Regions from separate parts of the Homo sapiens genome. Here region 2 is linked to region 1. The links come from fine-mapping of genetic effects on gene expression. A gene starts in region 1. The other region holds a variant in brackets. All regions are shown on one strand. Distances are between the middles of the regions.

Region 1 (12,461 bases):
ATTTTGATGTACTTCATTTATCTACTTTACATTTGTTGCTGTGCTTTTGGTGTCATAGCTAAAAAATGATTGCCAAATCCTGTCAAGAAGCTTTCCCCTGTGTTTTCTGCTGAAAGTTTTATAGTTTTAGCTCTTACATTTGGATCTTTCATCCATTTCCAGTTAATTTTTGTATATGGTGTATGGTTAGGGTCTAACTTCATTCTTTTGCATGTGGATATCTGGTTTTCCCAACAGCATTTGTTGAAAAGATGCCCTCTCCCCATTGAATGGTCTTGGCACCTTTGTCTGAAAATCATTTGACCATATATTTTAAGGTTTCTGTCTGGTCTCTTTATTCTATCCCATTGGTATAAATGTCTGTCTTTATGCCAGTATCACACTATTTTGATTACTATAGGTTTGTAAGGTTTTGAAATCAGGAAATGTGAGATCTCCAACTTCATTCTTCTTTTTCAAGATTGTTTTGGCTATTTGGGGCCCCTTGATTTTCATGTGAATTTTATGATGTATTTTTCTAGTCTAAAAATAAAATATCTCTGCTGTTGAGATTTTGATAGCGACTACATTGAATTTGTGGATCACTTTGGAATGTATTTACATGTTAACAATATTGAGTCTTCTAATCCCTGAACACAGCTGTCTTTCCATTTATTTGTGTCTAATTTATTTTAGCAATATTTTGCAGTTTTCATTGTAAAAGTCTTTTGCCTCCTTGATTAAGTTTATTCCTATTTTATTCATTTTAATTAATCTTAAATAACACAATTTCGTTCAGGTTCAGCAAATATTTGCTGACATTCAGTTTTGTTTTTGTTTTTGTTTTTTGAGGCAGTCTCACTCTGTCACCCAGGCTGGAGTGCGGTGGTGCAATCTCGGCTCACGGCAGCCTCTACCTCCTGGGTTCAAGCGATTCTCCTGCCTCAGCCTCCCAAGTAGCTGGGATTACAGGCACCTGCCACCACACCTGGCTAATTTTTGTATTTTTAGTGGAGACGAGGTTTCACCATGTTGGCCAGACTGGTCTCAAACCTCAAGTGGGACCTCAACTGATCCACCTGCCTTGGTCTCCTAAAGTGTTGGGATTACAGGCATGAGCCGCTGAACCCGACCTCAGGTTTTTTTAATCTTTTATTTTTTCCCTTCTCATATATTCTCTCTTGGTTTTAATCTTGGGTCTACAAATCTGTGTTTGAGAAGTAGCATACTACACACCTCAACATGAATCAGGCCCTTCAAATAAAAGATAAAGCTCTTTTTAAAAAGCCTGTTTTGAGTAAAACACACTTGACTGTATCGTGAAACATTTCCTCATAGGGCTTACTTTCTTAAAAGTTATTTAGTGTAACAACTGAGGTTTCTTTTATTTTTATCTTATTTAAGTCTTTGTAATTGGGGGTAGAAGGAGAGGATCTTGTGAGTTGGGTTTAGTTTTATTTGTGATCTGACTGGGGCAATTTTGTCATGGTGTTGCCTGTGGACTAGACTTCAAAGTCCTCGGTGAATACCCTATATGTGCCTAGTGATGAAGGAAGCAAACAGGACTGGCACTTGGAAACATTGTGATGTCATGACCATAAGCCCTTTGTGCTGGCCCCGGTGTCCAAGAAGCCCTGAGACAAAGAACCTGGGTTTCTCTCTGTATGTGTTTTCATGTCCCATTACTTGGCTCAAACTTCCATCTAGCACCTGGCAAAATAGAACCTGCTGACCAGCGGGGCCTCCTCAAGGAGGCTCCAACTTAACATTGAGCTCTGTGAGAAAGTGGAAGCAAAATACCAGTGAGAAGCAATAGCAGTCTCGTCTGCCCAGGAGCAGAGTGTACAGGTTGGCTTTCACGGTCTCCTGGAGCCCCACTGCACATGTGCCTGCAGATCACTGGCAGCTCCCAGAGAGAAGCTGGGGGAAGCTTCTGATCCCTGGGGCCCACAAGGGTAATGCTCTCTCTGTCTGGGATGTAGATCCCAGGTCTCCTGCATCCAGGTAAGCTCTCTCTGTCCTGCCCCCATTAGGCTGGGCTCTGTCTTCTCCTGCTTCGGGAATGATAGAAATGTTCTATTTCTTGATTGTGATGGTGAACAGACTGGGTAGCACATCCTTGTTATTTTCACGGCAAGCATCACCACTCTCTCCCCTTCAAGACCCCAGTCCTCTTAGAAAACAACCAACCCACCAACCAACCAAAAAGAGATAGACAATTCTGGGCAGCCTTAGGAATCTTAACTGAGGCTATGTCTTCTTGTCTTCTTCCCATGCTTAAATCTCAGCTTTTTTTTTTTTTTTTTTTTTTTTTTTGAGACAGAGTCTTGCTTTGTCACCCAGGCTGGAGTGCAGTGCAGTGATCTTGGCTCACTGCAACCTCTGCCTTCCGGGTTCAAGCGATTCTCCTGACTCAGTCTCCTGAGTAGCTGGGACTACAGGCACGTGCCACCACACCTGGCTAATTTTTGTATTTTTAGTAGAGACGGGGTTTCACCACGTTGGTTAGGCTGGTCTTGAACTCCTGACCTCGTGATCTGCTTGCCTCGGCCTCCCAAAGTGCTGGGATTAAATCTCAGCTTTATTGGGCCGGGCACGATGGCTCACGCCTGTAATCCCAGCACTTTGGGAAGCTGTGGCAGGTGGATCACCTGAGGTCAGGAGTTCAAGACCAGCCTGGCCAACATGGTGAAACCCCGTCTCTACTAAAAATACAAAAATTAGCTGGGCGTGATGGTGCACACCTGTAATCCCAGCTACTTGGGAAGCTGAGGCAGGAGACTCACTTGAACCTGGAAGGCAAAGGTTGCAGTGAGCCAAGATTGTGCCACTGCACTCCAACCTGGAAGGCAGAGTAAAACTCTGTCTCAAAACAAACAAACAAAAAAAACAAACTCAGCTTTACCGAAGTATAACTTATCTGCAGTGAAATTCGCCCATCTCATGTTTATAGTATAATGATTTGGGGGCAATTGTATATGGTTTCATGATCGTGTCAACAATCAAGACACAGAACATTTCTATCAATCACCCCCAAAACTTTCCTCTTGCCTCTTTGGAGTCAATCCCCCACCCACCTCTAGGCTGACCTCTGGCCCCAGTCAACCATAAATCTGCTTTCTATCATTATTGTTTTGCCTTTTCCAAAATGTAATATAAATGGCATCATGCAGTATATAATATTTTGTGTACAGTTTATTTCATTTAGCATGATATTTTTGAGATTCATTCAAGTTGTAGCATATATCAATAGTTCTTCCTTTTTATTGCTGAGTAATATTCCATTGGGTGCATATATCACCATTGGCTTAGCTATGGGTTTAATCAGTGGGGATTTGAGATGCTTACATTCTTTTACTATTTTTTATTATTATTATTATTATTTTGAGAGGAGTCTCACTCTGTCGCCAGGCTGGAGTGCAGTGGCACGATCTCGGCTCAGTGCAACCTCCGCCTCCCGGGTTCAAGCGATTCTCCTGCCTCAGCTTCCTGAGTAGCTGGGATTACAGGTGCACGCCACCAAGGCTGGCTATTTTTTGTATTTTTAGTAGAGACGGGGTTTCACCATGTTGGCCAGGATGGTCTCGATCTCTTGACCTTGTGATCCACCCACCTCGGCCTCCCAAAGTGCTGGGATTACAGGCGTGAACCACCGCGCCCAGCTTTTGACTATTATTTTTGAAAGGCTGCTGTGAATATTTGAATACACGTCTTTTTGTGAACGTATGTTTCCATATATCTTGGATAAATACCTAGGAATAGTATTGCTCGGCCATATGTACATTTACCTTTGTAATTCACTGCCAAACCATTTTCCAAAGGGGCTGCACTATCCTGCTGAGGCTGCTTTTTAAATACAGACTGGGGTTGGGGAGGAGGAGGTAGGCAGAGCTGCTTTGCAGTTCTCCTAGATTCAGAAGTTAGACCTGGCATTCATGTGCTTCACAACAAGCTTATGAAGGAGTTAATGAATAAAACCCATTTCACAGATGAGGAAGTAGAGGTTTGGAGAGGTGTACTTGCCCGAAGTCACACACCTAACAAATGGAAGAGCTAGGATTTAAACCCTGGAACCTTTGTGTCAGTGCACAGGGGCTTACCCCCTATCCTCTCCCATCTCTCTCCCCAGTGATCACCGTGGCAACTTGGGAATTCTGCTGCCTTGACACTCTATACATCACATTTACATCTATCCTCAAGGGGACACAACGACCCTGGGAGGTGGCATTCAACCCCTTTTTTTCAGAGGAAGCAGTTAATGATCAGAGAGGTGAAGTGACTTTCCCAAGGCCAACAGCTTGCCTATAGAATTTCTGGGACCTGAATCAGGTTTCCTAGTTCCAAGTGCTTTCTGCTAGAGCATGGTAACCCACAGCTACATTTAAAATTTTTCATTCCTAATTTTCTTTTTCTTCAGCCTTCTCTTTCCTCAGTAAGAATGCCCCTCCCTTTCCTCCACCTTCCCCTGCCTCAGGCCCAATACATTGAACCTGGTAGGATTAAGTTGAGGCAGGAGTGGGGACTGGGGAGATCAGAGCATAGAGGCCAAGGGAGAAGTAGCAGGAAACAGGCCATTTCCTCGCTCGGGCCTGCTTCTTATCTAGGAGGTGAGAGGCCAGAGGTGGAGGTAAGGGATGAAGCCAACCAAATCCAGAGTGCAGGCTCCTCCTGGTGCTGCCTAGCCTGCCTCCCCCAACTGCAGAGAACAGGATGAAGCCTCTGAAGGTAGGAGGTGCCTCCAGCCCTCCAGCCTGTGCCTTAGCAAAAGCGGGAGGACTCTGGGGGAGAGGGGCGGAAACAGGTGTAGGCTGTGCTACTCAGAAGGGTTGTGGAAGAAGCAGCCTGAGGTCGCATCTATTGCCCCCTCCTCTCTATTGTCCTGGAGCCCTGGAGAGGGAGGCCAGCCATCTTCTCACAGGCCTCCTGCATGATGGGGGGGTGTATGTGTGCAAAATGCAGGGAAGCCTGAAGATTCCTACACACACACACACACACACACACACACACACACACACACTGAAATGTGAGTGCAGCCCCAGCCTGGAAGAGGGCAGGCTCAGTCAAGAATACAGCGATGTCACCAAGGGCAAGGCGGTAACCCCTCCATAGTGTACAACCTTGTTTGTTTGTTTGTTTTGAGATGGAATCTCACTCTGTCACCCAGGCTGAAGTGTAGTGGTGCAATCTCAGCTCACTGCAACCTTCACCACCCGGGTTCAAGTAATTCTCCTGCCTCAGCCTCCCGATTAGCTGGGATTACAGGCGCCCACCACCACGCCTGGCTAATTTTTTTGTATTTTTAGTAGAGACGGGGTTTCACCATGTTGGCCAGGTTGGTTTCGAACTCCTGACCTCAAGTGATCCGCCCGCCTCGGCCTCCCAAGGTGCTGGGATCACAGGCCTGAGCCACCGCGCCCAGCCCATAGTGTACAACCTTTACAGTTTTCAAAGTGCTTCCTCATCTGTTGCCTCATTCGATCTCTGCACCTACACCGTGAGACAGGCACGGCAGGGGTTACTCTCTCCATTTCACAGGCCAAAGGCTAATCTTCTCTACTGGCCCTTTCTGGTTGAATTGCATCTTTCTAGAGGTGGGGCTGGGCTGGGGCTGGACCCTGGAAAAATCTTCAGGAATTACCTCCTTAGGATGAGACCATCCCTGCTCTGCACCTTCCCCACCTCCTAACCCCCAGCTCCTCCCAGCTCCATCGAAAAGCTTTGGCCTCATCTTGGGACACTTAACCAGGCCTATTATATGCAAGGTATCCCAGGCAGCTGCTGCCCTCCCTCCACCCATCCCCATTTTCCTCTATCCCTCTGCCCTAAGATTCACAGATACCAGGAATCCAGAGTTATTCAGCAGCCCACCAGGGAGCCTCTCTAGCATGCAAATTTACTGAGCGTGCTTTGAAATTCAGCACAAAAGTGAATGAGATTCAAAGGAGTTCATAGTCTGGGGAGGGGAGTTGGCAGAGCAGACGTGTAAGCAAATGATGACATCAGTACAACAAGAAGGGCTGGGTGGGGGAGACTTCTAATTGTGCGGGGGCCCAGGAGCAGCTGCTATTCTGCTGTCTTTCCAGGAGTTTGGCAAATCCAGGAGAGAGGACCAAGTGGAAAGGGCTGGAGGAAAGAAAAAACCCAGTGCATCAAGTTCCCTGGAACTAGGCCAGAGCTTGGGGTGAAGAGCAAAAAGAGGCACACTGGGAGAAGTGGCTAAAGAGTGGGTTGGGTTGGATTCTGGATGGCTTTGTTACTCTTCTAAGAAGTCTAGACTCTTCAATAAAGCATATATATATGCATATATAAATGATATATGAATATATGTGTATATGTGTGTGACTATGTAGAAACACACGTACACATATACACTGGTATCAGGTAAAATGCTGTTTTTAGATGCTGGAGAACTAACACATACAAGAGAAAAAAAACAGGTCATGATAAAGTCATCCTATTTACTCGAACTGCTCGCGTATAAGTATTATGCAGTACAAAGAATATTATGCTCATTTTTCTATGTGCCAGGTTGTCTTTTCTTTTTTTAATTTTTTTGACACGCAGTCTCGCTTTGTCACACAGGCTGGAGTGCAGTGGTGCCATCTCAGCTCACTGCAACCTCTCCCTCCCGGGTTCAAGCGATTCTCTTGCCTCAGCTTCCCGAGCAGCTGGTATTACAGACACCTGCCACCACGCCTGGATAATTTTTGTATTTTTAGTAGAGACGAGGTTTCACCATGTCGTCCAGGCTGGTCTCGAACTCCTGACCTCAGGTGATCCGCCTGCGTTGGCCTCCCAAAGTGCTAGGATTACAGGCGTGAGCCACCGCGCCCGGCCCAGATTGTTTGTTTTATTTGATTACACAATGAATTCTCTTCTTGAAGTTTGCCTTTCTTCTCTTTTTCCTGTCCCTTTCTTTTTACTGTATCAATAGTTGTCTGACCCAAACCTCAACAAGTAGAAGGAATTTTGGACTGAAATGTTTCCGTTCACTAAGTCTCAATTGCGTTCTTGGAAAGGTGCTGGCACAGCTGAGGGACACCCCAGCTGTTAGTTGAGTTTGTGAATTGCAGATCCTGCCCCAGAGTCAGTGAAATTTCTTTTTCCCTTATACTATCTCAACTTTACGCAGCCAACCCTGTGTACCCAATAATAGCTCAATTTAGTGGCATCCGCTAAAGTCTTGTATAGAGAAGTTTTCCCTCTGGATTTCCCCTTTACTGAAGAAAAATGGGGAGACCCAGACAAGGGTCCCGGGACTACGCTTCCCAGCCGCCTCCGCCCGGCGCCCAGTCCAACTTCCCTTACAGGGATGGCCCCTGGCATCTTGGCCCCGCCCATCCCCAGCACCATATTGCGAACTACAATTCCCAGCTGCCTCCATGCGTCGGACCCTTCAAAATGGGCTTCCCAGCAGCCTCTCGGGCGAAGAGCCCCGCCCTTCGGAGCTGCTCCCCAGGTCGACCCGGCGCACTCTTCCTGCCCCCTGCCCCGTCACGTGATGCAGTCCCGCCAACCGGCACGGGGAGGCGGGCAGCGGGCGGTGGCCGGGGGCGGGCAGGCCGTGGGGGGCGGACCCCAGAGGGGGCGGAGCAGGGCCCGGCAGCCGAGCAGCCTGGCAACGGCGGTGGCGCCCGGAGCCCGAGGTGGGTGCGCGCTCACGGCTGGCCTGGCTCGGAGCCGGGCACTGCGGGGACCCGTGGTGAGGGGATCGGGAGGAGGAAGTTGGGACTCCTTGGGCCAGCGGGTCGCGCGGGGCCTTGCCGCACCGTCAGGGTTGGGTGGGGGTTTCGTCCAAGCGCCGTCGCTGTCCCCGCGGGGCAGGGCTGAGGCCAGGGAGCAGCAGGCAGGTACCTCCGGCTTCCTCCCGTTCTCCCCGCCCAAGGTGGCCGGCCGGCGGCGGGCGAAGGTCGGGACGGGGGTAGGGGTTGGCTGGCCGTGGAGCTGGGGGCGGACGTCTCAGCCACTGCCTGGACTTTGCTTCCCCGTCCCGGGGCGGTGAGTGGGCCGGGCGTCCGCCCTGCCTCCCCGGCGACGCTCCGCGGCTGGTCCTCGCCTTGGCCCTCCGCACGGAGCGGGCGTCCGTCGCATCCCCGGTGGGCCCTGCGGAGCGGCCGCAGCCCGGCACTGGCCGCGAAGCCTCGATGGCCGCTCTCGGCCAGTGTTTCTGTGTCATACACGAGAGGTTTATCTGCTTTTGCAACAGTTGAGGGAAGATCTTAGAGGGAACGGTTAGTTCCCTGATACGCAGTCGGAAGTATGTACAGGCACGAGCAAGCGCCCGTGGCCGGGTTGCCTCCCTTAACTGTCTTTTGCTGCGCTCAGGAAGTGAAAACTAATTTTAGTATTTGCCTAAGCAAGTAAGAAGTGAATCTGCTGCAAAAATTATATTAGAGCTTTATAGACGCACGCATCGTTTGAGGCGAAGTGGGTTGCGACTGGTTTTGAAACAGATACACCAGATCTTCACAAGAATAAAATTATAGCATTTTAGAATTGACTGGCATCCTGAAGTTTACATTGTTCATTTGTTTCCTGGATGGGGGAACTGAGGCCCAGAGAGGGTAACTAATATGTCCCGGGCTTCAGGGCAACTTAATGGCAAAGCTAATATCACAAGCCAGCTCTTTGGGGGTATCTTGGTGTCTGTCTAGTCTGGATTCTTTTTACCACAGCTCAGTATTATTCCTTGTGAAATAAGCACCTTAGAGTCTTGAGACTGAGCCAGCAATTTTGCTAGACTGCAAACCATTTTGAATTTCCTTCAAAATCGGTTTACCAACCAAATAAGACAATCAGGCCTGTTACTTTGCAGACACGTTTGCCTTCATCCAACATATATATTGGGCACGATCATGTATTCACCAGATTTGATTCTGAATGGCTTTTGGCTGCTTCACAAAATCAAATCTACTTTTCAGAGATTCCACACCATGGGGGAGATTTGAACCAGTGGTGCTGCCTGCAGCACCAGTGTATAGTACCCTCCCGGGTGCTTGAGGGTGGATAACATTCACGGGGGGCTTGTAGATTCTAGTGTAGTTAGTAAATGATTGGTCTCTTTAACTTAAAGTTCTAACTACATTTATTAAGTTGTCGATGGTTTCATTCATTCATCAAACACAAGAATGCCAACGGTGGGCACTGGGAAGACAGCAAAGAGCCCCACTGCTGAGGTCCCTGCCTTATAGAGTTTATATGTGGGGAGGCACACAATAAAAAAATAAACAATGATATATTTTCTGGCAGAGATGAGCGCTATGAGAAAAAATAGAGCTCTGAAACCTTACAATGACAGTGAAACAGGCTGGCATGATTGAGAATGACTTGGGCATTACTTTGAATTTCTAGTTTTAGATTGCCAGCTGCTGCTCCAGTAAAGGAAATAAATCCAAAAGTAAATCTCTGAATCAAAGAGATTTTTTGGAGTCATCATTTCTCCAATGAGTGTCTTTTAGATGGTAAGCTCATCCCAGCCTCATTTTTACTCACATTTCCCCCCACCCCGACATGCAAACAGTAAGTGATTTCAAATACCTAGAGAGGTATTTTTCAAATCCTTTGCTGTTTTCATAGTTAGATAGCTGACTGTAGCTACAGAAAGCTCTGCTGAGGTCAATATTGGTTGTTGATTTCATGCCGGTGTCTGCTGGACTCTCAGGCTACCTTGCACAAGGGTTTCTCTTCCTGTGCAATGGTTTGTACTGTGAACCTCTTATCTGAAATGATCATCAGTCCTTGTGTGGTTTGTAAAGAAACTAGTTCATTTTGAAATAGCTCAAGAGAAAAGAAGCACTCATTCTTAGGAACAAGAGTGCTCGCTAATAAAATGGCATTAATGAGAGTTGACTGTAAAAGTTCATCTGTTTAATACCTTCTAAGTTCTCTCATATTCTGTATGTTCAATGGCTTCAAAGCAAAATTTTAAACTTTTACAGGTCTGAAAAATAATTAAAGTTACAAAAAATACTTTAATATTTTTTGTTCCAAAATGAGAGGCAGATTAACAAAATGTAGTTACTTAGAAACCACTGAAAACACATGGTTCTTGCTCTTATTGAGGGCTCCAAAATAAAGAGAAAAGTGGAGACTCTCAACGATTAATAGGTGACATTTTAAAGGGGTAACCAGAGGATTTCAAAGGCTGGAGTTTCTCATTTCTAAAGTTTATTCGATTTTGTAACAGAATAATAGATTGTTTTCATTATTCTTTAGTAATTTTCCTTTCCTGTTTTCGACCTCTTTGAAGTTCTGCTTTCATTATTTTCTAGTTTTCTAGTTCTTTATTTCCTTTTTGGCAGATGTGGGGGATAGGGACCGTCATTTGCCTAGAAGATTTTGACTCTGGATTGGGCAGCCTGCCCCAATTTGAATCCTGGACCTAATATTATCTGTGTGACTTTAGGCAAGGTACTTAACTCTGTGCTTTAGTTTCCTTATCTGTCAAATGAGAATAATAATAGTACCTTTCTCAAAGGGTTGCTGGAGGGACTGAGTGAATAATCTATGCTAAGTGCTTAGAAAAGTGTCTTGCATGTAGTAGACACTAAAGAAAAGCTGTTATTGACTTGAACGATATGGAACTCTTTTGTTTTTAAGAAAATACATTATTCTAGCTATGTCTTAATAAACTTTTGGAATCCAGTAGCTTGCTTTTCTCGACATTTCTCTGCATTTCCTTGTTGGCACGAGCTTTTGGTTCCAGGCGACGCTGGCAGCAGTGTCCTCCGTTCTTGCAGTGCTATATTCCCTTTACCATTTGGACTTAGAAATTTCTTGAGGCCAAATTTTGTTGCTACAAACAATAATAGAGCAAGAGAGGCCTTCTTCTAGTTTATCTGCCTTGAAAGTGAGAGTGTATCAGGAGACCCAGTAGGAGTTACTGAGTTAGGTCCCGTTGTCATCCTGTAGTTGGGGGAAGATTTTTCATTGGAAATCTTTGCAGTGTATTTTTCCACTGTGAGTACCACGACAGTCTCATCTTTTTCTTTTTAAGAATGTGGAGGCATCTCTTTAGATAATTGGCATTGTGTACTACTAGTGCTTTCTATTTCTACCAGAGGAACTATGGTAAATGAGCCTTTTGTTTGTGTGAGGTGGTAGAAAGCTTCCTGCATTTGGATTCCAGAAGCTGAGTTCAGGTCCCAGTTCTCTTCCTTAACTCTGTGTCACTGGACAAGTCATTTAACCTTGCTGCTAGTGGCTCTTCCATCTGTAAGATAGAGCTAATAAAACCTGCCCTGCCAAGTTTCCAGAGTTCGTCAGAGAATCAAATGTGCCTCAGAGCCCTTTGTAAAGTGTGCAGCATTATTATTATTGCATGAATGTGTTGTATAAGCAGTTGCTATTTGGAGAACTGGTATAAGAGGGCAGTTGTCCTTCCTGTTCTTGGACTGTCTTCCCTGTGGCTGTAGGTGTGGCCTCTCTGCCTCAATCTCCCTCTTCTGTCATCATTAAAATATGCAGGTATTTATATTGCCTCTTTCATAGGGGCCTGATGTCACTGGTATACCATAACAAGTTTTTGTTTTATGTATTCCTAAAATGGTAGTAGTGTATAACCAACAATCACAGGGTGACAGCAAGGCAAGCTCAGCCTCAGGGAATGTTGCCTGCCTCTCCCAAGTGTCTCAGAATGGAAGACTTTCTCTTTTCCAATCGAGACCTGACCGCAGCTCCTGAGTCCATACTAGACTGGATGCTTGTGCTTCTGGGGTTAGAATAAAAAGCGATCCAGGCTCTGGGGAAGAGATGGTTGATAGCTCCCCAGGTCTGTACCATCCTCCTTGCTGGAACAGGGCAGGCTCCTGAGTGATAGGGCAGGCGCCTGAGCGGCCTTTTCTCGTTAAAGTTGTTTCTCAGTATCTTGAAATGTCTCTGTAAGTTGCACTTTGCAATGAATTTCATGTACTTGTATTAGTTTAGTATTGCTGTTCCTTGACTGTTTGTCTTAATAGGTAACTCCTACATATTTCAGTATGTTTTTCATTTTCTATGATTGTAATAAAAAGGGCGAGGTTGGAGATATTTTTTCTGATTGTCTGAAACCTAAGATGGTCCTATACACACAGTAGACATTTAGTAAACATTATTTAACTTGAACTAGACAAAGGAGGCCAGCTTAGAATTGTTCACACATGATCATTGTAACCAATTCTGTTGCATGTCTAGAGATCATGCTCCCTGTCTGCCAGATGAAATGGAGCTCATGCTTAACCTTTCTTGCCGTGGTCAAACAGCAAATGAGAAAGTTCTTTGAATCAGTCATTGTCTTGCCACCCTTTTCTTCTCAGCTTCTTGATTTTTGAACTCTTGGCATGAGCAGTTTGAGTACAGATTAGTTTTTGCTTTGCTTGCTAGTATGTTTGGGGTGGGAAGTTGAAGGGGGAATAATTGAAAGTAAAAATAAAAGTTGTTTGTAACTCATTCATCTCTTATCCCCTTGCCTCCAAACCCTGACAGCACACAGCAATGCCCTTTCT
Region 2 (16,924 bases), 64 kb before region 1:
TCAATACAAAACAAACAAACAAACAAACAAACAAAAACCTTGGCCGGGTGTGGTGGCTCACACCTGTAATCCCAGCACTTTGGGAGACCAAGGTAGGCAGATCACCTGAGGTCAGGAGTTCAAGACCAGCCTGGCCAACATGGCGAAATCCTGTCTCTACTAAAAATACAAAAATTAGCCAGGCATGGTGGCATGTGCCTGTAATCCTAGCTACTCAGGAGGCTGAGGCAGGAGAATCCCTTCAACCTAGGAGGTGAAGGTTGTGGTGAGCTGAGATTGTGCCACTACACTCCAGCCTGGGCGACAGAGTGAGATTCCGTCTCAAAACAAACAAACAAACAAACAAACAAACAACAGCAACAGCAAAAAACCTTAGTGGAAGACACAATCTAAGCATTTAAGGGAAGAGTCCCAGGCCATTAGTAGATGAAGGCTTTCAGAAGAAGAGAGGTTGACCTGTCCTGGTCATTATCTGCCTTCAGCTTCCCGGGAATGTGTAGAGCCCACCACCATCAGGACACTAGCAGAGTTGTGGACATGGTATTGGATATGCAGAAGAAATATGGCCAAAGAGATTGGACTGCCCTCTGTGTTTTGCTTTCAAGCTCACCACAGCCTGCCTCCAGTACCTCCAGTTCCCAGGTGTAGGGCAACACAGAACATCCCTGTGGGGTGAAGTGAGTGGCCTCCACTGATCCGGCCAGCAGGACCAGGAAAGCAGAGCAGGAAATTCACCAGACAAAGGGTCAAGCCAGACCTCTTCCAGGGTGGGGGACAGGCAGATGCCTGGGGACACAGAGTCAGAGAGGGGATTCAGAGATCTGCCTGCTCCTTAACCAGCTTCCAGCCCAACCCCATTACGCTGACCATGTCCCCCCATTCCACTTTACCTCCCAGATCTGGGAACATCTAGAGCTCCTCCTCCTGAGGCTTGGGAAGATTCTGCCGTATAGACCACGATCCTTTCCAGTTTTCTCCTCTGCTGTCTTGTGATTCAGCTTCCTTGGTGCTGTGTAGTCAGTTAATCCTGGTCTATCTGCATTTTAGTTTCATAAATTATGATGCTGTTATCTCCTCTCCTATTCTCTCTATCCTGGTGGGATTTTGTCTTTAAAAACAAAACAAAACACAAACTCTTACTGTAGTTTTAATGAGACTCTGGGAGGAAGAGAATTTAGATGCTTGCATTAAACTGCTGTCTAATTCCAGAAGTCTCCAAAGGAAATCCTGCCACTCCCTTCTTCGGTTGCCCGAACATGACGGTTAGTTGGATGGCTCCCTTGGAAGCCCAAGGTGCCATCAGGGAGATACTGAGAGAATTTGAGGCTGGGAAGGCAGGTGGGGGTTGGGGTGAGGGTTATGTTTTGAATATTGCTTCATATTGAAGCATTTGTAGTATTTGCGGTTAAGAGCCTGGATTTTCATGTAAGTCAACTCCAGGTTCAGCTTCCAGCTCTGCCAGTTACATATGGTGTGACTTTGAGCAAGTTACTTTGCTTTTCTGAACCTTATTTTCCCCACCTGTTAAGTGGGGATCATAATGGTACCCATCTTTCAGGCTTGCCATGGGTATTGAATGTTTCACTTAGTAAACATTTACAGCGTTTCACTCAGTGCCTGGCACATTGTATGTGTTCAATACATGGTAGCTATTGTCATCATCATTATCGTCATCATCATGAGAAAATAGAAACCTTCCAGAAACTGTCAGGGCAACGATTGCCACAGGCCGTTGTTGGCTACTAAAACTCTAGACTCTGGAGAGCCTTGATGCCCTTCCTCTTTTACCCCGTCCCTGATGCTCCCCCAAGTAGCATGATGCCCAGTGGCCCACCAACCTCATTACCCAGCATTGCTGACAACAGGCACAGCCTTGGTCACTGTGAAAATGCCCCACAGCCTCAACCTCAGAAGTGGGAAGTATACTGCAGATTCACTCTATGCCAAGCACTATGGGATATCCACAGGAATGTGCCACAGTGAGGTAACTGCCCAGGGGATAGTAATTCCTTCATTTCTTTATACATTATGGATTCTACCATTTTGTTATTGGGTTATTTTTCCCCTTGTCAAAGTAGCAATTTATCAGTTGAACTTAATTCTCTAATTAAATTTCAAATCTGAGAATTTACATGATGAAGTGAATTTGATTTTGGACCCAGTCAATTTCAGTCAGCCCTAAACATATTTTGAAATGTTAAAGTTAAATTATATACGTTTGTGGAGGAAAAACTCCAGGAAAGCCTAAATTTTTCCAGGTCTTGCTTAGGGGATACCCTGCTCCAAGAAAACTTTTACAAAATGCAAATTTACAGAACAGATCCACCAAATGGGTGGGATTGGTGCTACCCTAGAGTTTTCTGTAGAATTTCTTTTTTAAAAAATTTTTTTCTTTTTTTTCTTTTTTTTTTTTTTTTTTGAGATGGAGTCTCACTTTGTCGCCCAGGCTGGAGTGCAGTGGCGTGATCTTGGCTCATTGCAAACTCCACCTCCTGGGTTCAAGTGATTCTCGTGCCTCAGCCTCCCAAGTAGCTGGGACTACAGGCACGCACCACCATGCCCGGCTAACTTTTTGTATTTTTAGTAGAGACGGGGTTTCACCATGTCAGCCAGGCTGGTCTTGAACTCCTGTCTTCAGGTGATCCACCCACCTCAGCCTCCCAAAATGCTGGGATTACAGGTATGAGCCACTGCGCCCAGCCAGAATTTCTTTAGTGAGATTTATCTACCCCCTCCACCCACCATACCACACGTATCATAACAGAGGTCCCCCAACTTGGAGTTCTCCTCATTTCAAGGTACAGTTATTATAAAAAGAAGAGGACACCTGGGTCTCACAGCAGCCAGCTCTGCGGCCATTGCACAGTAGAACCTCAGTGGCCTTACAAAATATTCTTGCTGTTAGTCTACTTACTGCAATAACAAAAGTTTCACTTGGGCACTTTGATCACACAAAGCTTGGCACAGGCTTTGAAATCAGACAATACCTAGGTTCTAGTCTAGGCTCTGGCACTTAACTAATGGGTGATCATGGGCAGGTCGCTTAACCTTTTTGTGCCTCAGTTTCCTTATCTTTACAATGGGATTATAATAGTACCTCCTTCATAGGATTGTCCTGAGGATTCATTAATTGAAATGACCCTAGGAAAGGGTCAGTGCCTTACACTGAGTAAGTTCTCAGTAAATATTTATAATATCATCATCATCATCAATTATTATTATTATTAATTTACTTTACCAAAACACAGGTCCTGCTGAGCCATGTTGGCCAGACCACACCTAGAACAGCATGTCCAGTTTTAGGCTAATCTGTGTAAAATTCAGTGCCTGGACCATTGAAAGGGGCTCGATATATGGTGGAGGTATTATTGTTAATTAATGCTGCTGCTAACCTTCCTGGAGTGCATACAACATGCCAGGCACTGCATACGTGCTAATTCTATTAGTCCTCTTAACCTTTACCACTCTATGAATAATATACAATTATTAATCCCTTTTGCAGATGAGAAAATTAAGGCACAGAAACGTTAAGTAACTCTCCCACAATTACAAAGCATGGAAGTGGCAAACCCATAATTCAAGTCTAGACTCTCTTTTTCCAGAGCCTGGACTCTTAGCCACCATGCCAAAGAGCTGTGCTGTCCACTGCTGTAGCCAGCAGTCACATGTAACTATTTAAATTAATAAAAAATTTAAAAAACAAGAATTCAGTTCTTCATTTTTACTAGCCACATTTCAAGTGCTACACACTTCATGTGGCCAGTGGCTACCATATTGAACAGCACAGCTCTAGAGCATTCTATTCTTTCTGGGATGATTCAGCATCAACTCAGGAAGTTCTGTTGGATGGTGATGCTTACAGAGATTCTGTTTCTTACAAAATCTCAGACTTCAGTTGTACAGCTTTCTTGCATTGTTATTAATAGATGCATACTTATGATATATTGAAATCCCATTTGCACTTGGCCAAGTAGGGTAATGGCAAGAAAAAAGCCAAGAAGCGTGACTTACATTACGTTTTCCTGTTTCCCCGGTGCATTATTTCAAATTCACAAAGTTGTCTCCTATCACCTCTCTTTGATATGGGGCAGGAGGCATTCATCAACTTGCCCAAAAATCCAGGTTCTTCCACATGTCTGCCTTCACCTCTTTGGGCTATCTGGATAATATTTAGTGCTCTAGCATAGTAACCTCACAAGTGACTTGAACAACGGAGGTTGGCTTCTGAAGTCAGTGAGCCACAGAGGACCTTGGACTCTGAGCATCTTTGACACACTCATCAAGTCTCCAGTTCGCTTTCTTGGGTTTTCTCTGCTCATTTCTGTTACATGGTTAGTAAAGGCCAGGGAAAGAAAAGGTGTTGAGGATCCATTACCTTAATTCCAGAATGATTAAGTCAAGAAACCTACAAGCTCTCAGAAGCCAGTGGAATTAGAGTGCACTACTATAACCTTGCAAATGTGCATATGCCTCCTTCCGAATCACCAGAGTGGAGATTGGGCCAATATCCAATCTCGTCAATAATTTATAAAGCCAGAGCATTCATCCACTTCTTGCAAAGCAGCTGAATATCTATGGGGGTTAGTCATAATCTGAGCTCCTTGCACCAGAGCCATTTGAGCTACAGAATAGCACAGAGTGTCACAGAATAGCCAAAAGTGCAGAGTTATTTCAGTATGAAAGAAGGAGGAGCACCTGACTGCTCCTCGCCATGTGCAGAGGAGGAGCCCATGCATTTCCAAACCCAGGGGTTGCTTGGTTTCTAGCTTGGTTTCTGTCTGTACCCCATCTTGCTATTGTGTGACTTGAGTAAGCCCATCTCCACTTCCTCATCTTATTAGCTAGGAACAATCTATCTCAAATTCACATGTGCACAGAGTTCAGTGCCCAGCACACTAAAGCATGTTCAGTAAATATGTTAGCTGATGTTATTTTCACCATATGATTATGATCACTCTCTGTTCTACTGATGGGTTTTATAAACCCACCAGCATTGAAAAGAGATGAGTAGATGTGCTAAAATGAGAGTAAAGGCTCAGTTTATCATTGGTGTTTATCCCAAAAAAAAGACTAGCACAATGCTCACCAGATTATAATCTCCCAAGTGCCTAGAACATCATGCCAAGCTAGTAACATAGTAAAGTTTATTGAATTTTGCAAGTATTTGCTGAGCCCTTTGCCTGGGCTAGATACTGTCGGGGCACCAGAGGGATTTAGAGATGATTAAGACTTGGCCCAGCAAGAATGTTCAGTCAGCCAAGGGTATTCAGCCACAGGAGCTGGACCTGGAAAGAGAGGCAGAATTTCCAGGGTGGAGGAGCTTCATCTCGAAAGACACACAGAATTCCCAGAGTACAATCATGGAGAAAGGGCATTCCAGGCTTGGCAAACCAAGGAGCACAAGCACAGAGGGCCGACCACACATGGCAGCCTGTCTGGAGAGCTCCAAGGAGATTGGTATGACTGGGGGTACGTGACATTATGGAACGCAAAACCTGGCTGCTGAGAGGGTGGATGTGCTTGCACTTGCATCTCTAGTCTTGGTGCGAGCCATTGGAGGATTTTTCAGGGGAAGGGAAACTGGGCTGACCTGGTTCCAGCAAACTCTCTGACAATCATGAGAAGCCCAGGGTCCAGGGGGATGAGTAAGTGTGACCTCCAGGAAACGGGGCACCACTATCAGACTCTATCTGTCCCATGGCTTACTTCTGTGAGATTCGAAATAGTGTAGACCTTGTCAGTCCATGAGCTAGTAATTATGCCCACCAATTACTGATTTATTTGCCTTTCTGAGATGTGCAGTGATCCCAAGGACAAAGATGGATTTACCTTATGTTTAGAAACTTCTAGAAGTTGAAATGTTCCTAACAACCTTTCCTGTGGAGGTTGTACCTCACACTTAGAGTGTGTGATAAGCAGTTTCTTTTCCTAATTAAATAAAATGGAGAAAAGACACAAGCATCAGCTATAAAGCTCCCAGTCAGTCACAGTCAAGAGACTGAATCTCATCTCTTTTATTTATTTTTTGTGTTAACTGGGGATTGCATTGGTCTGCACAGTGCTTGCTCCCATCCTGCTCCACTTGATTGAGTGGCTCCAGGCCCCCTCTTGATTGCTGCTGAAATAGAACTGCCCACACTGTCGGGGTATCTTCCGCCGCTGGTCATTTCCATGTGCCATCTGCAGTTTTTTCTGCCTGATGGACTACTGAGGCACTGCGTATGTTATGCTGATGGGGGGTCCTGTTTCTTGACCCATCACTAATATCTTGCAAGTCACAGGAAGCTACCAGGGATTCCTGAGCAAAAGCTTAAAATGCTTCAGTTCTCTACAAATAAGCCCCATTCATTGCTTTTAGAGTGTGTTATCATGGAGCAGACAAGTAATCAGAACCTGAGTAATATTTGCATATTGAGGTCTTCAAAACTCCAGTGTGGCTATAAAATGGTATTTAAAGTTATCAAGGAGCTAGGTATGCAGGCAGAAAGAACTGTCCATTGTAGAAAGCAATGCCTCTGCTCATGTCCCAGATAACCTTGCTCCAAGGACAAACTGGAGCTTGATAACATGAAGCTGCAGATGGCCGGTGAGCTCAGCTCTGTACTCACTAACCACCCCATGGGAGGGGCACTGAGCCCTCTATGGTTGGCATAAATCCCATTAGAATGGTAAAGAAATCCTTTTCACAAGTACATAGAAATCGCTTGCTAAGATTTCATGGGTTTTCTTGACTTTGTTGTTTTTGTTTGGGTTTTAGAGGGTGGGCATGAGTCATCTCTAAAACTGTTCAGGTAGTTAGGTTGTCTTCTTATTCCCATTTTTAAGTATTTATAATTTGTTCTTAAAAATTTGTCCGGAGGTCCACACCTCCCCTTGGAAAACCTTGCCTGTACTTTTCTTAATGGCACATTTTAAGTTTCTATGTTTCAAAACTTGCTTATCATATAACATGCTAATGACTAAACACATGCACACCTCCACACCAATGCAAACGACATGTGGGCTTGGGAACGAGGCAAGCCTGGGTTTGCATCCTGCTCTGCCACTAGTGGGCTGTATGATTTTGGGCAACTTAGTTAACCTCTCTGGGCCTCATTGGCCTCATTTGTAAAATAAGGGCAATAATAGTCCCTTTCTCATAGATGGCTATTTATACAGATCGAATAAGACCAAATATTTAAAGAACCTGGGTTAGTGCCTAAAGCACAGCAAATGCTCAATAAATTCAGTGGTGGCAATTTTTATTGTTATTTCAAATATTACATCAAAATATCTACTGAACTATTATCCATTGCAAAGACTTGCCCACAATAGGTGCTTAGTAAGTGTTTATTGCAATAAGTTGAAGTGATTCCAACTATGTAGCTTAGATTTCGGGTATGAGTGTTTCCTTCTCCACTGGGATGTTTGCTAATGGACATAGATGATCACTCACAGCTCAGGTATTAAAAGCAGGAGAGTAGAGGTGTTCCTTCATGTAGAAAGAAGAGCAACTTCTCATCAAGGCAGGCTTCCAGCTGGTCCTTTGGACACCACTGTTGCTAAGCACTTGGTGTGCTCGTCAGGGTACCAGGGCTCTTAGCAGCCACCCATTTGCGTTTTGCAGCTTTTGCTGACATGGATATCAAGTATGAAGTTATTTTAATTGCCTTTGGCTGAAAAAAATGGGTCATATGTTCAATATGTTCAATTCTGGTGAAATCCCTGTCTTCTAAAGCATGATAGAAAGGGGAGGTCCCACCCACACACAAGTCCTAAAATCTTGGGGCCCTAGTGGGGTATAGTTCAACAAGGGCTGCAGCTCAGGACGTGGTTGTTGTGAGATTTACTCGTGACTGTTTGGTTTTGCACTCACCATTTGGTTTTGCAGATTCCTCAGCGTGTTCACACACACATACCTACAAACCAGTTTAGAGTTGTGTGCTCCATTGTGGGGGGTGGTCACTGGGGTGGGGTGGGGTAGGGTGGGATCAGGCTTGGTCAAAGTCATTGCTGATGAACCAGCTATCTGACTTAGCTTTGTTCCCATTTTCAACAAGACAGTGATTTCTCAAGCCAGGGGAGTCTTCACATGAGATCCATGGATGGGTATTAAGTGGTCCAGAAAACCCCCCCAAATTAGATGTAAAATGTTGGTGGGCTGGAAAGGGGGAGACACCATAAGTGCTTTTTCTGTGGAGAGAAACCATAGCTTATAACTGGTTCTCAAAGAAGTCTATGACCCAAGACAAGCTAAGATCACAAAGCTGTTTGGTTTCGTTCCACCAAAGCAGTTGGTGGGTATAACCACAACACCCAGATGACCCAGCTAGACACTCAGGGCAGTGACAAGATCAGTCAGAACCATTTTGTGGCCAAGCAGCTGATGGATTGTTCAATCGGTTGTTGTAGACTCATGTAGACAAAGCCTGCAAGCTTGGGGAAGCCAGGCACCCCCAGGTCAGCCTCGGGCGACAGCCCCCGTCCTGCCAGGCCCTGGGGAGTGAGTCCTTCCTGCCCGGCAGCTCCTTTGCTCATGAGCTGGCCCGAGTCACCTCCTCGTACAGCACCTCAGAGGCAGCGCCCTGGGGCAGCTGGGATCCGAAGGCCTGGAGGCAGGTGCCCGCTCCACTACTGCCTAGCTGCGACGCCACAGGTAAGTCACTTCCCCCTGAGCCTCGCTTTCCTCATCTGTCAACGGGGCACAGTCCCCTGCTCAGCCTGCCCGCCTGCCTCACAGGGTTGTTGGGAGGAACACAGGAGGTGACAGCTCCGAAGGTAAAGCTCTGTCCACCCATGAGGGACTTCTAGTGCTTCCTGGGCCTGCTTGTTCTCTACTTTCTGCCCGGCATTCTTTGGCAAAGGGACAACCCAAGCAAGCAGAGTGCTCCAGGTGCCTCAGCCCCACCTCCAGGGAAATGAGTGGGGGATTGACCAGGGTGCAGCTGCTCTCTCCCTCAGCTGTATGCCTTCCAGTACCCCGTTTCCATACCTACCTGCCTGTCTGTCCCTGAGGCCAGACTGGGAACCTGAGGGGGACAGGGGCTGTGCTTCTGCACCTCCGAAGCCCTGCACCTGATACCTGCCTGCTTGGCACCTAGTGGGTGCTCGGGAACTGCCTCTCCTGCCAGCCATCTGCTGTGGATTCCAAACCCCGCCCAGGACTCCCACACCCTAGAGGCAGGAAGTTGGATTGCCCTGCTGGAGGACTGGCAGTCTGGGTAGTACAGGCAGAAGGAATCCAAAGCAAGCTTGTCCAAGAGGCCTGTGAGTTGGGATCATCCTCTAGATTCTAGAGTCTAGAAGGAATGGCTTGACTTGCCCCCAGAGTCGCATCAGTGGTCATGAGAGCAAGCGGATGGACACCAGCCAGAGGGGACCTTTGCAGAGAATTGCATCTGGTGCATAAAATATCAATGTGCACAGGATGTCTGCACTATCTGCAGAGAAAACTGGAGACATGAACATTTTCTAAGTGATAGTGATCAGAAGATGGTCATTAAGCTGAAAGGGCCTCCCAGGATTCTGGCCTTTAATGGAAATTCGGCTTTGGTATGTACAGCCTTGTTCTCTTTATCCTGCCTGCCCTGGCCTGGAAGAACAAGCAGTGCTTTCCTTTCAAGGGCTATTGATTTCTCTCTCTCTCAGAGTCACAGAGCTCCTCAGCTGTTCACTCTTCAGCTGAAACCAGAGAAATCTTGTCCAGCACAAAGCTGCCAGGGAAACAGAATTAGCAAAACGGACGTCGTCCCCTCAGGATGTCGCTGTTTCCACCCTGGTCTGCCTTGCCTTTCCCTGTCTTTGGAAGCCACAGATGAAAGGATATCAGCTAGCTTGCCTTGAGAATTATTGTCCCTCACCTATTCTCTCTCTTCTCAAGCCAACAGCTTTCACCCAGCAGTGAAGTGGCAGAGCAGATTTGTGGCCCCAAATCTTCTCTAAGAACCTTGGAAATTGGCCCCACCTGAGGGCCTTTGAGGGTCAGGCCTGGCATCCACTAAATCCTCCCTGTCAACACAGCCACTTTGTCAGTCCAGCCTGTGAGTCAGTGCGAGACAGAGGATGCAGGCACCACAGGGGAAGAAGAAAAGCAAGCTGGAAATATATTTGTTTCCTTTGCCCGGGATCATTCCCAGCATCTAAACCAAGTTCTTCCCAGACCGGCCAAGACTGAGGAGGAGTCAGAATAGAGTTTGCAGCAGTCATAGATCATGTGGGAAGACAGAAAACAAAGGGTAAAAAGAATTTCATATACAGATCTCTGCCGTTTGCTTTCAGTGGCATTCATTTTGTGAAGCCCCCAGTGACAGCTTCAGACCAGTTCAAACCTGAGGGCAGCATCATTACCATGGGTGAGGTCTCTAGAAGGGCAAGGAAAGACCCCTAACATAGAAAATGGTGTGGCAGTTTCCAGTTCCCCATTGGGGTCCCATGACTTGACCTTAGGTTTCTGCCAGCACCTGCCCACCCTCCATCCCTTCACCCTACTGGGTGGTCATTAGAACATTATCTGCTTTGATTGATTTACTTGTGTCCATAAGAGTAGAGACACACGGTGTTATCCCCATGCCCGGAACAGAGCCTGGCCCATAGTAGACCCATGACCATGTTTGTTAACTGAGTGACAGAGGGACTGACTGGACTGTCATGTAAGCAATACCTTCCCGTCAGGGTCTTGGGAAGGTAGGTTCAGGGGCCCCAGAGTTACTGTGGCCCGTATCCCTCTGGCTGCATTCTGGGCAACGCAAAAGGGCAGGTGTTCAGTGGGTTCCACCCCAGATCTCGGCGTTAACAGTCCACTGGGAGAAGTGGCCCAATTCGTGCTCATTACTCCCAGTGGTCCTGCCTCCCTGCAGGCATTCTGGAGAAGCTGAGTCACAGGCTCTGAGAGTTAGGGGGAACTTAGGAAACAATCAAAACTTGCCTGCCATTCATTTTAGGAAGCCGTTGTAGTTTCTGAGGGACGACTAAAGGGAATTTTTTCCTAAAAGCATCCATCCGTCCTCCAACTAGGCTTCAGATAGCAGTGTGTATGTTGTCACTATCTATGGGCCATGGCCAGTCAGAGCCCACGGGTCTCAGGGGGCTCCACCCATGTGGGGGTGGGGGTCCCCACAACTCAGATCTTGAATGTGTGGTGGTCCCATGCAGTATACTATCTTCCTGTCATTGCAAAGGGAAAGTCAGAAGGGTGAACGAGTTGTTTCTAATTCTGGCTTCCAAACAGTACAAAAGAAGGTTTTTTTCCTTGTGGAATACACTAGTGCTCAACCTTTGGGACAGATAGCTGAGCACCTTCTGCTGTGTGGCAGGCTGGCTCTCTGTGGGGGCACTCATGGAGCAGTGTCTGCTGGAAAAGGAGACAGGAGTTCCCTAGCATGGAGGGGTAGATAATCTCCCCGCTCCCTCCCCTCTTCTGTCCTCCCTTCCCCTTCTCCCTCCTCCTCTACCCTCCCCTTTTTCCTCTCCCCTCCCCTTCCTCCTCCTCCTCTTCCTTCTCTTCCTCTTCTTTATTCTCTCTCCCTCTCAGTCTCCCCTTCCCTCCCTTCCTTCCTCCCTTCCTCCACATTCTTTATAAAACAAGGCTTTGGATCCATTCACTGCCATCCCCCAGAAGTCTTGTCATTTGAATTCTTGTCTGAGTCAGGATGCTCTCCTCCAAGGGCTCATAGGGCAAGGAACTTCAGCCCGAATCCGGCTAAAATCCAGGAACATTTTGTGGGCATCTGTCTCAGTCCCCGAATCGTTTGTCCTCTGCCTTTCCCCCGTTGGAGTCCTTTTGCCTGCTTAAGTGGTTGAATTGGTAATGAGATC[A/G]TTCTTCCCATGCAGTGGTGAGAAAGCAGCACTCAGGTGATTGCACCTGGGTAAACAGGAGACATTAGCATGTGGTAGCTGGTGAGTGAAGCTGGTGCAGTGCCTGGCGTGGGCTCAGTTGTGCCAGCAGGCAGTGGTGGAGTTTGGGCTCTTTCCCCTCTCTCCTGCCCAGCACACAACCCCCAGGGACAGGTGGGGGCTTTACAGCTCCCTGGCGTCAGCCTAAAGCTTCTAGAAAGGCATCCCCAGGACTTCCAAGGTTGCCATCTTGGCTGAGACTGTCTGTGAATGTGGTCCCTTGTCTGACAGTGGGGGCTGGGAGGGGTGTGACAGAGGAAGAGCTGGGCCTTAGTTCTCTGGGGGTCACCATGAGAGAAGCACACCTGGGCTTGCATAGAACTCAGTGCTGCTTGTCAGTGTCACCTGGCACAACAGGACGTAGTGCCACAGTTGCAGCCCTAGAAAATTTGACGACCCCTTCATAGCTTTGTTTATAAAAGGCCACACGGCCTAGGCTGTCCTTCATAAGAGAGCAGAAAGCGAGTGTCCCAGTCACTAAGCAGCAACTTTCAGGCACGGTTTCCTCCTGGTCACTGAAACCATTTGTCATTTCCTGTTTTCTCCATTTTCCAACGATTCTAATTGTCAGTGTCAAAAGGCAACAACTGTTTTCTTGGGGCTTATCTTTGGAGCACATTGATTCAGAACAAAGGATGGGAGCCTCCATCTGCAAAACAAAGGAAGCAGCCTCCTCGGGAGGCCTGGAGAGAATGCTCTGGCTCCTTTGGCCAGGGACAGCAGGACCAGCATAGGAGCAGAGGACTGGCGGTGCCTCTGGACACTGCCGTAAGGTGAAGAGACCATGGAGGACCGTCGCTTGCTGGTGGCACCCCAGACTTGAAGATCCTGCAGAGCTGGCCACCGGCACCCAGGCTGGGTGTCAGCAGCGCTGTGTGGCCTTGGCAGTTTCCATAGTGATAGGCTGGCCAGCTTTTCCATTAGACTCCGGGGTCCTCTGGAATGTGTGCTTCCCGGGATGAAGACGCCCCAGCACCCGCTGAAGCCTGCCCTGCCCCGGCGTGGCCTTTCCTTTTGTCTGGCACGCCCCTGGGCTTGGCTTTCTCTTTCCGTCCCTCCCTTCGGACTTTACCGCACTTCCCCTGCTGTTTCCTTAGTCACACTCTCCAGCCTCCATCTGCCCCTGCCCCTGAACCCCTACCTCTGTACAACTGTGTTATTTGATGAAACTAATGCAGCAACCGGTGGGGATGGAGTTAAGGACCGTTTAGACCTAGCCAGCCACGCAGGAATCTGTCCCCAGAAGCAGCGGAAGCACCTGGTCTGCAGTTAGGAGATACTGTACTTCTTAGCCGTGTCACCTTGGGCAAGTCATTTAACCTCTCTGAGCCTCTGCTGTCACATCAGTAAGCTGGGGACTGTAGATCTTCTGCCCTGATGTCCTGAGACTGGTACAAGAAGAGCCAAAGCGAAAGGACTGCCTTCAGAAATGGCTGCCAACCCTGACCATCTCAGGCAGATCCGGATGGTGTGGCCTTGGGCAGTGGTCATGTGACCCCCATGCTCCTCAGTGTCCACATGGGGTGTTGCTAGATGACATAAAATAATGGGTGAGACGTGCTCAGTATAATGAGAGCTTGAGAAGGCAGATCCCACCCCCCATCCCCACCCCCACCCCTTGCCGCCTTGCCAATGCTTTGGCAGGGAGAGGGCAGCTCCATAGGGCAGCTGAGAAACAGCCCCTCACTGCCCACACGGCAGCTCCAGTGGAGGGGGAGGCAGGGACCAGGACAGGAAGCAGGCTAAGGGCGGGATAGAAAAGCAAACCCCAGTCTGGTGGAATCGCTTCTGGTGTAGTCTTCCCGGTGCCATGTGTTTGTCCTCTCTGCCTTGGCAGGAACCAAGGCCAGGAACTGCTGCCAGGCCTGAGAGCCGGGCACAGTCCCAAGCACTGGGTCGCTACCCCGCCCCACTCCCACCAGCCCCACTGAGTGCAGAGAAGGGTTCCCAGAAGCCCTTTGCTGGAAAAGCAGGCACTGCACGGGCAGCCCGTGTTGTAGAGGCAAGTCCTCTGGCATCTTCGGGGGGACACAGACCAGAAAGTGGACTTGGAGCTTGTGCTCCCAGACAGAGCTGCCTTGGTGGTTGAGAAGGGGAGAGAGATGGCAGCAGTTGAGCAGAGATGGCCGGGCTCCCCTCACTGTGTGGGGTGAGGCTTCAAGCACTGGACTGGGAGTCAGACCTGGATCCGAGTCACAACCTGACACCAACTGGCTGAGGGTCTCAGAGCAAGTCATGCCTTTTCTGGGTCTGGGGGCCTTCATGTTATTCCCTCCTGGCTATGTTCTTCCCCTTTGCTCCTTGAGCCGATCCCAGACTGAGTGCTGAAACTGCGGCCTTGAAACTTGGCTCGCTCCTCCCCCTGCCCACCCAGCCAGCTTTCAGATGGAGACAGGAAGCTCCTCCCAATTGCCTATGCTGCAACTAGTCAGGAGAAGGGCGGGAGGTTGGCAGTAAGTGTTTGGCTACTCCCAGTGTTGGAGACTGTGTCCACCTGACCATGTGATCATCTGGCCGTTCATGCCAGGACCACCAGGAACAAGCCTCAGTCCTCTTCTCAATGTCCTTTCCCTATGACAGCCCTGCAGAGGCTAGGTATCCACCACTACATAGCCCACAGTCTGCTCTGCCCCAGCCACAGCATCCTTGGCTTGCTCAGCCATTCTTTGTCTGGGTAGTTTGAAGTCCAATCCCCACTCTCATTACTTACCATCCTCTGAATGCAGCCAGTCTGTCTGGGTCTCCCTGAGACTGGCATGCCCAGACTCCTGTGGGTATAGTCTGGCCAAGGCAGAGTTAGCATAGGACTGTCACCTCCCTCCTTCTACATACTCTGCTTCTATTAATGCAGCCTAATGTTACATTTGTTCTTTTGGTGACCGCATCTCACTGCTGACCCATCCTGAGCAGATGGACATCCAAAATGCCTAAAACTTTTTTCTGTGTGCTCTTGCTATTAAGTTCTGTCTCTCCTGCCCCATTCTATGCTGTTGCAGTTGTGTTTTTAACCCAGGTGCAGAATCTTACTTTATTTATACCTGTGGAATTTTGCTCGAGAGGGTGGGGCATGCATGCGAGTGTATGCTGGTGTGTTTATTCATGCTTTCTGCTGCACCAAAGCCAAGTCCTAGGTCCCCACGCAGCGATCCTAAGGCTAATTATTAATTGGTAGCTGTAATCTAATTTGTCTTTTTCATCTTCTGTTTAGCAAGAGGAACAGAGATCAGGTCTTATGGCAATGACCCCTGAACGGCAGAATGCATATATCTCCCAACAGATGAGTCCATTTGAAGGTAAGCAGTTAAGGCCAGTGTTCCCAAAGGGGTGGGCAAGGGGTGCATATGTGGAAGTGGGGTGAGAATTCATTTCAGAGTAAGCAGTTACTGTGCTTCTGAAAGCATTGAGAAAGAGGAGATCTGAAAATCAGTTAAATAATTCATCCAACTCTAAGAGCAGGATCCCAATTGAAGGCCTGGTCTAAATGACTCCAAAATCACCACTTAATTCAAGAGACTGATTTCCCTGAGTCAGGCCCCTTAAAGCAGCTATTTCAATGGGACAGGGAAACAACCCTAGGATCTGGATTAGAATCACTTGGGGGCTGCCACACCCCCAGGGCTCTGATCCTGCCCTTCTCCCACACGCACATTCACATACTGCTGCAGTGACCTTCCATTTCTAATGGGTTCCTGGGCCATCTGTCAGGTATAGGGAATGGAAAAGGGGTTGGGGAGGCTCTGCTTCAGAAAGTTTGTGTCAGGGGCTCCCAGAGCCTCCACAGATAGATAGCAGGGGTCCCCACCCTACCATGGCAGCTATAAATGTGATCAACATTTATTGGCCTAGGATACAGCAGTTAGCAAAATGCCTGATGTAGTTCCCACTCCGTGGAGGTTGCAGGCTAGCCAAGAAGTCATGAGTTCAGCAACCCTTACGCACCAGTGGGATGAGATTGGACCAGGCCGAGGGTAGTCTTGGGAACACTCAGCATTTGTCTGAGGGCCAGAAGAGGCTGCTTGCCCTCAGACAGGAGGTCAGCATCTTTATTGTAGCCCATGACACCTCTACACCATTGCTCTTCTGGTCTTATGGAAGACATCTTTGGGCCTGATAACAGCGGAGTCTGTGTCCCACTTGTCCAGGCTGGAGTGCCACATCAGGCACACTCCAGTTGCAGGGACAGCACAGACAAGTTTCAGGAAGGCTGGTGGCCTCCAGGAGGTTAACCTTATAAGGCCAGATTGTAACCTAGTTGAAAAACATACACATGCCATGATAATAAAAGAACCTAGGCACCATTACAAGAGAAAAAATCATTTTTGTAGATACGAGCATGGATTCTTGGGTGGGTCAGACACACTGGGCTTGTGCTCTGACTGCACTGTCTCCCCTACCTGACCTTGGGTAAACCATAAGACTGCTGCATGACTCAGTGTCCACCCCAAAAAAGTACCGGTAGATATTGGCCACAGTAGATATCAGCTAGAGTGGACTCTCATGACAATGAGGGGAGATGTATTCCCCATCTTAGGCACCTGGGACTCTACCTTCCATCTTCTGCTCCGTGTCTCTCCATCCCCAGGCTCTTCAGAACTCAGGGAGTCCAGAATGTCAGCTCCCAGATTTCAGCCTTCAGAAAGGAAACCCATTACCGTTCAGTTGAACAAATGTTGTCTGAGCCCCAGATCTGGGCTCAGAGGCCATCTAGGCTATGAGACAAGAGGGGAACAAAGCACCGTCTGCACTCACTCACCACACTCACTTGCTGTCCCAGGTCACATCCATCGGGTAGAGAATCTAAGAGGCTGAGCTAGCTCCCGCCACCAGCCCAGCCCACCCCACCTGGCCCCTTCCTTCCTTCTACAAAATATGCACCACCTGTCAAAGGGTGGGCAGTGCCAGGCCTGCATACAGAGCACTGAGTGTAAAAGCAGACATGGACCCTGACCTCCAGGAGCTTCCAATTTTCTTGAAGAGACAAATCAGCTGGCATTTCAGTCCAGTGTGATCTGCTCTTGGTGAGCACAGACCTAGGGAGTTGGGGCAGCTTCCC

Which allele goes with the higher level. Positions count from the first base shown, and alleles are read on the strand shown. Sizes are in standard deviations (SD) of each study's normalised expression.
For the expression in breast of the gene that starts at base 7,584 in region 1, allele A in region 2 goes with a higher level than allele G (small effect, 0.17 SD a copy in GTEx).

The links. PIP is the estimated chance that this variant, and not a neighbour inherited with it, causes the effect. A credible set is the group of variants that fine-mapping cannot tell apart.
Region 2: its variant is the best candidate, but not a certain one, in a credible set for the expression of MTM1 in breast (GTEx, PIP 0.67).

Annotation. Positions count from the first base shown.
Region 1 is chrX:150,561,038-150,573,498 of GRCh38, forward strand. It overlaps MTM1 (myotubularin 1), which reads left to right and starts at 7,584. Exons shown (of 15, transcript NM_000252.3): 1 at 7,584-7,625. RefSeq lists enhancers at 4,257-5,179, 5,180-6,101 and a silencer at 7,386-8,065.
Region 2 is chrX:150,494,883-150,511,806 of GRCh38, forward strand. MAMLD1 (mastermind like domain containing 1) reads left to right here. Exons shown (of 8, transcript NM_005491.5): 6 at 8,392-8,635; 7 at 15,080-15,164. The coding sequence ends at 15,120. LOC124905223 (a long non-coding RNA gene) reads left to right here. Exons shown (of 2, transcript XR_007068346.1): 2 at 1-4,532. Among named protein-coding and RNA genes, the nearest start is that of MTM1, 65 kb to the right of the region's middle. The variant A/G (reference allele first, on the strand shown) is at 11,794.